3 separate regions of the Homo sapiens genome follow, and all the other regions are reported to be linked to region 3. The links are microRNA targets in miRTarBase. Many come from high-throughput screens and were not tested one by one. Region 3 holds a microRNA gene; each other region holds the end of a gene's coding sequence.

Evidence for each region. The annotated mature microRNA hsa-miR-936 reads ACAGUAGAGGGAGGAAUCGCAG and lies in region 3 at 2,008-2,029, opposite strand. An mRNA with a match to its seed (bases 2 to 7 or 8) in the 3' UTR can be bound and repressed. Matches are read on the target gene's strand: a 7mer-m8 pairs with bases 2 to 8, a 7mer-A1 pairs with bases 2 to 7 and ends in A, and an 8mer does both.
Region 1: miRTarBase lists FXN as a target of hsa-miR-936. Seed matches in the 3' UTR shown: 8mer at 404-411.
Region 2: miRTarBase lists RGS17 as a target of hsa-miR-936. The part of its 3' UTR that is shown has no 7-base or 8-base seed match.

What each region holds. Positions count from the first base shown.
Region 1 is chr9:69,072,260-69,075,326 of GRCh38, reverse strand. FXN (frataxin) reads right to left here. Exons shown (of 5, transcript NM_000144.5): 5 at 1-2,715. The coding sequence ends at 2,565. Among named protein-coding and RNA genes, the nearest start is that of FXN, 38 kb to the right of the region's middle.
Region 2 is chr6:153,009,059-153,012,125 of GRCh38, forward strand. It overlaps RGS17 (regulator of G protein signaling 17), which reads right to left. Exons shown (of 5, transcript NM_012419.5): 5 at 1-2,704. The coding sequence ends at 2,516. Among named protein-coding and RNA genes, the nearest start is that of MTRF1L, 7.9 kb to the left of the region's middle.
Region 3 is chr10:104,046,144-104,049,283 of GRCh38, forward strand. It overlaps MIR936 (microRNA 936), which reads right to left and starts at 2,043; the gene lies at 1,946-2,043. COL17A1 (collagen type XVII alpha 1 chain) reads right to left here. Exons shown (of 56, transcript NM_000494.4): 30 at 1,926-1,961; 31 at 1,596-1,667; 32 at 604-630.

The sequences.
Region 1 (3,067 bases), not on the chromosome of region 3:
CACCACGCCCAGCCAATTTTTTAATATTTTTAGTAGAGACGGGATTTTGCCATGTTGGCCAGGCTGGTCTTGAACTCCTGACCTCAGGTGATACACTTGCCTCAGCCTCCCAAAGTGCTGGGATTACAGGCATGAGCCACTGTGCCAGGCCCCTTTTCTTTCCTTAAATGGGGATCTCCCACTGCCTTGGGAACGAGATAATCAAACCAATTAGAGCTATATGTAAAATGAAAGTAAAATAGGCCTGAAGGGCTGGCCCACAAGGACCCCATAAGAGCCCAGATTCCTTAACTTCCACTTTCATGTCAGAGCAGCCCCACTGCATACCTCTTTTGTGCTGTGTCCCAGATAAAGGAGTACATCATGTCACCGAGTTCTAAGTAAGTGGGGTGCACTGAAACTTTCAGTAGAAGCAAGATGCAAACACATACAAACATGTATGATGTTATTTATTTTCTCACTGGCACTGGCCTACTGCACTTAAACATTTCCATCAGACTCAAAAAATAATTTTATTTCAGAAAAAATATTTTACCTATTTAGCTTTTGTTTATACTGTTTTATTATTAATAGGTTTTTTTTTCTTTTTTTAAGAGATAGGATCTTGCTGTGTTGCCCAGGCTGATCTCCAATTCCTGGCTTCAAGCAATCCTCCTGTCTCAGCCTCCTGTGCAGCTGGGACTATAGGTATATGCCACTGCTCCCAGCTTGACTTAATGGAATGTGTTTTTATTCACCCATTGGAAAAGCCTTTGCTACATATTAATACAAACTTCTCATTAATAAACCCTCCTTTTTTTTTTTTTTGAGACGGAGTCTCGCTCTGTCGCTCAGGTACGATCTCGACTCACTGTAACCTCCTCCGCCTGGGGTCAAGCAATTCTCCCGTCTCAGCCTCCTGAGTACCTGGGATTACAGGTGCACGCCACCATGCCCAGCCACTAATAAATCCTTCTTTAAGTAAGAAAATAATATAACATGAGCATAACTTTGCATGAATTTTAATGTCCTGGAGGCTTGTTGCTTTGTATAAAGTGCAGGTCAGTAAAAATTAAAATGAGGTAATGTGGTATAATACGATTAACCCAGTAAGGGTACAATAAAGGATGGCTATTATTATTATTATATTGTTATTATTATTTTGAGACAGAGTTTTGCTCAGTCACCCAGGTTACAGTGCAATGGCACGATCTCGGCTCACTGCAACCTCCACCTCTGGGTTCAAGCGATTCTTCCGCTTCAGCCTCCCAAGTAGCTGGGATTACAGGCACCTGCCATCATGCCCGGCTAATTTTTTGTATTTTTAGTAGAGACGGGGTTTCATCATGTTGGCCAGGCTGGTCTTGAACTCCTGACCTCAGGTGATCCACCCACCTTGGCCTCCAAAAGTGCTGGGATTACAGGTGTGAGCCACCGCGCCAGGCCAAGGATGGCTATTATTTTCACATGAATTCAACTGAAATCACGATAGGGCAACACCAATAACAATGTTTCCTATATAGCTTAAAAACTGTTCTTTGTCATCCCCTCATCTACCCAATAGGGAATTAGAACTAGCCTGTTAGGTTGCTTGACAGGACCACTGAATGCTGGGAATCAACCATACTCTATTCTCTCATTTAACAGATGGGGAAGCAGAGGTCCAGGGAATTTGGGAAACTTGTCCACAAAGGGACAACTACTTTGTGGCTGAACTATGTCTAGGACCAGGGCTCTCTTTATCAACATGAGTATCTCCTTCCTTTATCTGCCCCTTCATGTTTACAAGGCACCTCCTCAGCTCCATGATTTTGTTTGTTACGCTACATCACTCAGCTCATGAAAACGGCTTTTTTTCCTCTTTTCTTGTCTTTGGAAGATTTTTTGCATTCTTGTAGCAGCTGATTCCATACTAACCTTTAAATTGAAAAAATATATATACACACAGACACGTATGTGAATATGTGGGAGAAACAGCACTAGGTCTCCCTGGACAACCCAGTGCAGGCCACACCTTGGCAGTCACAGAGCACAAATAAGAAATGATCTTCCCGTGTGAGTTGCTTTCGACACTTCAATGCTAAAGAGCTCAGAAGTGCTTACACTTTGAAAGAAGCCTGAAAACATTTGTAGGCTACCCTTTAATGTGTCTCATTTGGAGATAGAACAGTGAGCAGGTTGACCAGCTGCTCTTCATGTACTTCTTGCAGTAAATCCTTCAAAGAATGAAGAGTGAAGACAATTCATTTTCCCTCCTGGAATTTTTCCTTCTTATTATTTTGCTTTTTTAAAGGTTGTTATATTCAGGTATAGGCATAAGACATTATAAAAGATAAGGGGTATCATGTGAGGGAGGAAATCCGACAATCCAAAAAATCTTCCATAGAAATTAAAAATCAGAACTTGGGGGCAAGGTAGGAGGCAACACATTCTTTCTACAGAGCTGTGACACATAGCCCAACTGTCCTCAAAAGCAGGAATAAAAAAAATAAACAACAACAACAACAAAAAACAGACCTCAGCTGCATAATGAAGCTGGGGTCTTGGCCTGATAGCTTTTAATGTCCTTAAAACGGGGCTGGGCATCAAGCATCTTTTCCGGAATAGGCCAAGGAAGACAAGTCCAGTTTGGTTTTTAAGGCTTTAGTGAGCTCTGCGGCCAGCAGCTCATGGAGGGACACGCCGTCGTGGGAGTACACCCAGTTTTTCCCAGTCCAGTCATAACGCTTAGGTCCACTGGAAGACAAAACAAATGCATAGTAATTCCACAGCACAGCCCTTCAGATGAACCACTGATTCCACAAATGCTGCCCCCAAGAAATTGACTGGAGTAAAGCTCTAGAAAATAACACAAAATGAGCTAGTGTATATCTGCCTTCTTATCTTAGCATCTAAGAAGAGTTATACGATATATCTTCTGGAACAATTCCAAGAATGATTCTCAAAACCTGAAAAAACATTTGACCCTTACTGATAAGTCTCCAGGTATCACACTTTGATCTCCAGCTTTTGCTACCTCACATGTGATACCTGCTATGCTGGAGCAGTGTTTTAAAAATTAGGGCCATTTTTGTGCTACAGATGTAAC
Region 2 (3,067 bases), not on the chromosome of region 3:
CAACTTTAAAATCTGTGTTCTACAAATGCCCAGGTTAGAGATTAGGACTCTTTATAACGGCCCTTATCTTTTACATTTGGTAAAATATTAAAGATATTGTCAAACAGACAATTCATCTAATAGTCCAAAGTATCTTATAAAGATAACTTATGACTAGCAGGTCACCATCATATATAGTAACAACGAGAATATAAAGTCTACATTTAAAAAGATGGATGCATGCAGTGTATCACAGTATATTACATATTTTCTAGTCATGTGCACCAATTTGTTGAGCCTCACACACAGAAACAAATATGATACTACACCATACATGTGTATATATCATAGTAGCATAATAAACTCAATTCTAAGCAAGAAAAAAATTAAATAATTTAGGAACAATAGAACTTCACAATAGAAGTGATGATTCTTTTAGGTTTTTCTTTACTCTTTAGGAAAAAATATGACTTTTTGTAAACATCTTCATAGCTATCTTTTTTTCAACATATTACTGAAAACTTATTCAAATAGTATTTAAATGACATGAATAAAATATGTCTTAACACACTAACACTTTCAGAAAACACAGGCATTTGTTAAAAGAAATGATTATTATAAATATTTTCTATCTTGCATTTTAACTGCATTTTCATAAATAACGTATTTAAAAGTGCTGAATATGGTAGGATAGTCAGCAACGCCAGTGTAAACAGAATATTTTGTTTTCTACTCTGCAATTTTTAAAAAATCCCATTTTGTCAAACACTGCAACAGTTAAAATATTTGCATAGGGAATAGATAATAGCCCTTTTATTCATGTCTCCTGAATTCTATATAAATTAGAAAATCATACTTGCTTAAAAAAACCATTTTTGAAATGTTTTAAGTTTATGGAAAAAGAAACTTGTGATGCCAACCTTTCAAGTAAAATAAATTTAAAAAGAAACCCCCAAACTTGTTTTTTTAAAAAATATGTTTAATAAATTAAAAAATGAGAGGTAGTTAAAAAAATGACAAAGAAAACCTGTAACTGTAATATCATCCTTAATATAAGGCCAGTGTTCTCAGTGGATATAAATCTTTTTAAAACTTTCATTTTAGGTTACTCAGTATTATATTCATTCAGTTTAATATTAAAAAAATAGTCTTCAGGGGATATTAATATTCAAATGTAACACTTTGATATAAATATGACACTGATTATTTTAATTATCACTTTTATGCATGACAGAATATTGTTTCCTTGAAGGTCAGAAGTACATGACAATGTCAGGCAAGTGTTTTGTCGTAAAGATTTAGTGTACTTATAAAAAATAATATGGCAGCTGGAAGATTTGAGCACTGTACTGCCTTTTAATGATGGATGAAAACTAATAGTTTGGTTTAAACATCTTTAAAATGTCATCCTTAAGATATTATGTGAAAACAGTTAAGGTCTGAAGTAGAGGATTATTTTCTTCATAACCCTTATAAAACTTTTCCTGGTAAAAACTTAGCTTTTCATTGGATTTCACTTTCAAGGAAAATATGCCACAGGACAGATGCTATTCATCAAAATGTTTTACAGTGCTACATGTAGGCATTCCTTTATTAAGTCCTTTTCTTTATATTCCAAAACTAAGTTATCAAGCTTATTATTATTTTTTTCTTGCTGAAGTACATAACTTTACACAACCATTTTAAAACTGGAGAGCCAGTCTTTAATAAATTAATTACAGTATTGGACATCTGATATATACATAAATTCATTTTCTTCTATTACAGTTAAAAGCAATATCACTCTTTTGATTTGTCATTGAGATAGGATATCTTCAAATTGTTTTGTGCTTTTTTCCTTCTTCCCTTTTTTTTTTTTTTTGTTTTTTGCTTTTAGCATAGTAAACTCTCCTGTAATGAAAATGCCACAGTTTTGGCAGTGAACAACCAGAGGAATCCCCATTAGGATTTTCCAACAAACAGAGATAAATAGCTCTTTTTCATGTACAGAAATATTGGCTTCAAAATTAGTGTACTAAACACAGTATATAGAATGTTGAATACCATTGTTACATAGTAAAAATTGCTTTTTTTCTGTCTTAGATTATGTTAAAAAATGCAAACCATGGCCGATTTTTTTGGCAATTATTTCTTAAGACCATATTGCACAAAAGTCCTTAAATACAGATATAAGTTATGCTACTGGATTAAATATTACAACAACTATGTGGCAAATGAAGCATTTTACTTTGCACATGCAGTCTCTGGAGATACACGAGGAGACTGTTCATAGGACTACAAATACACTTTGCTTGCAAGTAGAATGAGTCTTGAATAAAACAAACAATTTGGCAATTCATTGTTTTGTGTGGTATTTTCTCCAAACTTAACCATGGAAAACCTTGATAAAAATGGAGACAAAGACCATAACGGTTGTGTTTTCACAGTAGCCTGAGGAATGCTAAACTGTAGTTCTCCAGGAACTCAGTTTCTGATGTTATTTAACTACTTTTATTTCCCATCTCAGCCCTCCAAAATGATTGTTTTTAAATGAACATTAAGATTCAGAAGAAGAGCCAGCAGTACTTTCAACAAATGACTTATAAATTTGAGAGTTCAAAAACCTTGGAAAAGAATCTCTGTGCATTAAAGTATATATCTGAAGTTGGGCATCTTCATACATGTGAGGATTGGGATCCAACAGATTTCTATTGATCACCTCTCTAACTCGAGAATCAAGACTGACCTAAAAAGAAACAAGAGCAAATACATTAAATAATATTTTTTTCAAAAGACCTCAATTAAGTAACTGTAGGTTTGTGACATTTTAGAGAAACTTTAAAGAGCAAATCCAACTACCAAAAGTCTTGGGTTCATCTTTTGAGACTACACAACCTTATGTACTTTTCTCCTTCAAAATTTGCACTAAATAAAAAAATCCAATTAAGTCTTTTAAACCAGAAATTTAGTTTACAGATGTCTTTGCTTACTTGGTTTTATGGTTTCTATGCATTCATTCAGGAGTTTTTGACAATTTCTAATCATGGTTGAGATACCAGAAATTTCCTAGCCAGAATGTGAATTCACCTCCTGCTATTCTGTGACTGGG
Region 3 (3,140 bases):
TGCAGCATCACCCTCTTGCCTTTAACTACTGAACTCCTCTGTAAGAGCATTGGAAGCATGTCCCTATGAATTCAACTGCTGGGGGGCTGCTGCCTGATTTCATTTTCAATCTTTGCCTAATTTCTTTCAGGAAATTAGGGGATGAATGTAGTGATATGGGGGCACAATGGTCCAATTACAGGACAGGCTTTAACACTGAGGCTGTCCCAGAGAAACTGGGCTTTCCCGAACAAGGATGAGCGCCCATGCCCTGTCATGCCAGTGGGGGAACTTGGGCCTCTGGACTAACAGCTCTCCTGGCTAGTGGGAGCTCAGCTATGAGCTTGGGGTTCCTCTCAGATTCCTGCACCCGAGGGGAACAGGGCACAGGCAGACAGAATTGACACACAATCTAATCTCATTTCTACTCGAATGGTGTTCTAGATTGTTCTGTGCCTATTTTTCCTTCCTAAGGTGCTTCTCACGACTCATAGTGAAAGGGAGTGTGTGCCAGGGAGTTGGTGGAGGAGAGGAAACTCTGGTGACTGCAGGAAAAGCCCTGGCCCAAGCAGTTACCCCAGGAGAAGGTGGGAGACAGCAGGTGGGAATGATCCAGCGACTCACCCTGAGGTCCCTGGGGTCCTGTGAGACCTGCAGAAAATCAGACACAAGAGGGAAGAGTTGAAGGGTGGAGGCCATCCCTGGTAGCCACACCCACACCTGCAGAAACCGGTGGACACTGCAGTGGAGGGGTCAGTGGGTACAGAAGGACACGTCTCATGCCGGGGCAGCCAGCATCCTTGGACCTCTCAGCTCTGGATGGAGAGCAGTTCTTCGGGCTTTGCAGTGAAGCGACCCACCACTTTCTCAGGCAATGGTGCTGAGCCTATCTGGGTTCACAGACCCTTTTGGAATCTGAGGAGAGCCACAAATCCGGAATGCTCAACACTCACGGATCCCAATGCTGCCCCAGGTTCCCCCTCTATGGCTCCTGTCTGGGCACCCGCCAAAGGAGGCTGAGGAGGCCCCTACTCTCAGAGGCCCCCGATGAATGCCCACCCGCCTTGACCACACAGCTTTCTTGGCTGGTTTTCATTTGTTCTTCCTGCAACCCTGAGAAGTTTGCTCTTTGCTCTCGGTGGAGACTCTAACAATGGCTTCCTCCTCGGCCTCGTGGGTGTTGGTGAGGGCCCAGTACAGGAGAGGAGGACAAGAGGAGAAGGGCTCAGAGGAGCAAGATAGCGAGGTGACCTTCAAGTCTGCAGTTTTAAGAGTGTCCTTGCCCCTTTCTAGAAATCCTTATGTTTAGCTGTTAATCCCACTCTTCTGAATTGCCAGACTTAGTTACCCAGAGGTGCCAGGGCCTACAGCCACTGCACGCAAAACAACCTAACACTATGGCAGTTCCCTGCTGAGCTGCTGGAGGAAAACGGGATAAGGCACACATGGGTGCATTTGTAAACACCTGCATGCACACACACAACCATGCACATATACACCCCTTCCCCCACAACCTGCACACCTGCACATGCACACGCACACACATGCCTACATCCACACACACAAAGCACACACACACTAAGCAGGGCCATGGCTCCCTCTTCCTGCTCTGTTACCTGGCTTTCCTGGGTCTCCAGAAGGTCCTGGTGGGCCACGGATTCCAGGCATCCCAGTAAGACCTTGTTCACCTAGAGAGAGAATGGCCAACGTGGAAGTGTTTACATTTAGGAAAGCTAAACTGGTTATCACATCTGAACTGATAGTTTCTGAGGGTTTTCCTAATTGACTTGCTGGCAGGTGGAAAGGAGAAGGGGAACAGAACTGGACACTGCACACTTCCACATGCTATATGCTCCTCTGCACTATGGTTAAGGGGACTGAGGGCTGCATGCTGGAACAGGGGCTGTGACGGGAGTGAGGCTGGGGGCAGCAGATGAGTGACCAACCTCTTGGGCCTTGGTGTCCGTCTGGGCCAGCAGGACCTGGTAAAGTAGAAGCAAGGTCTCTCAGTTGCTCCTGGAGTGATTTCTGCGATTCCTCCCTCTACTGTCCCAGTGGCCTTGAAGCACATTGTGTCCCAGGAGCCCACGCAGCCATCAGCCACGGGACAGCCCTGTCTGTCACACTCTCTGGATACGGTACTCCCACTGCCCCTTCTCCTAAACCAGCAATTGTCTCTTTTCCTGTTGAGAATTGTTCAGTGCCTTCCCATTGCATCTCAAGCGCCTCGATGCTCAATGCTTGTCGCGTTTACTTGAGGGCCTAGAAGTCAAGGTCCTCCATGTTCTTGTCTCCTCTGCTCTAGGCATTATTGTAACCTCTCTCCAAAATGGTGGCCTTCTGGGACCATATCTTGCTCTTTCCCATTTCTTTGTCTTTCCCTGCTCGTGCTGTCATCCCTGCATGGAATTTTCCAGACTGGTCATGCTTAAAATCTTTCCAACTTTTTGGGACCACTTGAAATGCCCCCTCCTCCGTCCTTCCTATTGGAAGAAATCTCTCCTTTGACTGTATCCTCACAGCACTCTGTACCTTGCGTGACACTTGTCACCTCATGCAAGTCTTATCTCCCCTTGAGGGAGGTAAAGCATCTCATTTGCCTAGCACAGTGTCAGCACTCACAGCTGGGGAAGTGAACGAGAGTACACATGCTGCATCTCCACAGGTAAGGCTTAAACCCTTCTTGGGTTTGATCCTCAACATGGTCTTTTTTTTTTTTGGTTTTTTTTTGAGAGATGAATTCTTGCTCTGTCACCCAGACTGTAGCGCAGTGGTGTAATCATGGCTCACTGCAGCCTCCAACTCCTGAGTTCAAGCGATCATCCTGAGTCCCAGGGATTACAGGCGTGAATCACTGCACCTGGCTACCTCTGAGATTCTTGGTCAGTTTCTGCAGCCAGGCTGACAGGCACCTCAGGTGAACAAAAGGGTAAAAACCTGGATTTGGCCATGAGACTAGCCCTGGGATTCCTGGAACACTTGAGGCTCCTAAGGACTTCAACACTGTCTTCCCCAGGGGAGTGGGGAGCTCACAGGCAGCTCTTAGGTGAATGGACCATGCCCTGCAAGGCCTCTCCCAAAGTGGAAAGAAACCCACAGAGGTACCTGCAGCTCTCTGATCCCCAGAAAGGATGCCCAGACACAGAAATGACTGGTCAAGG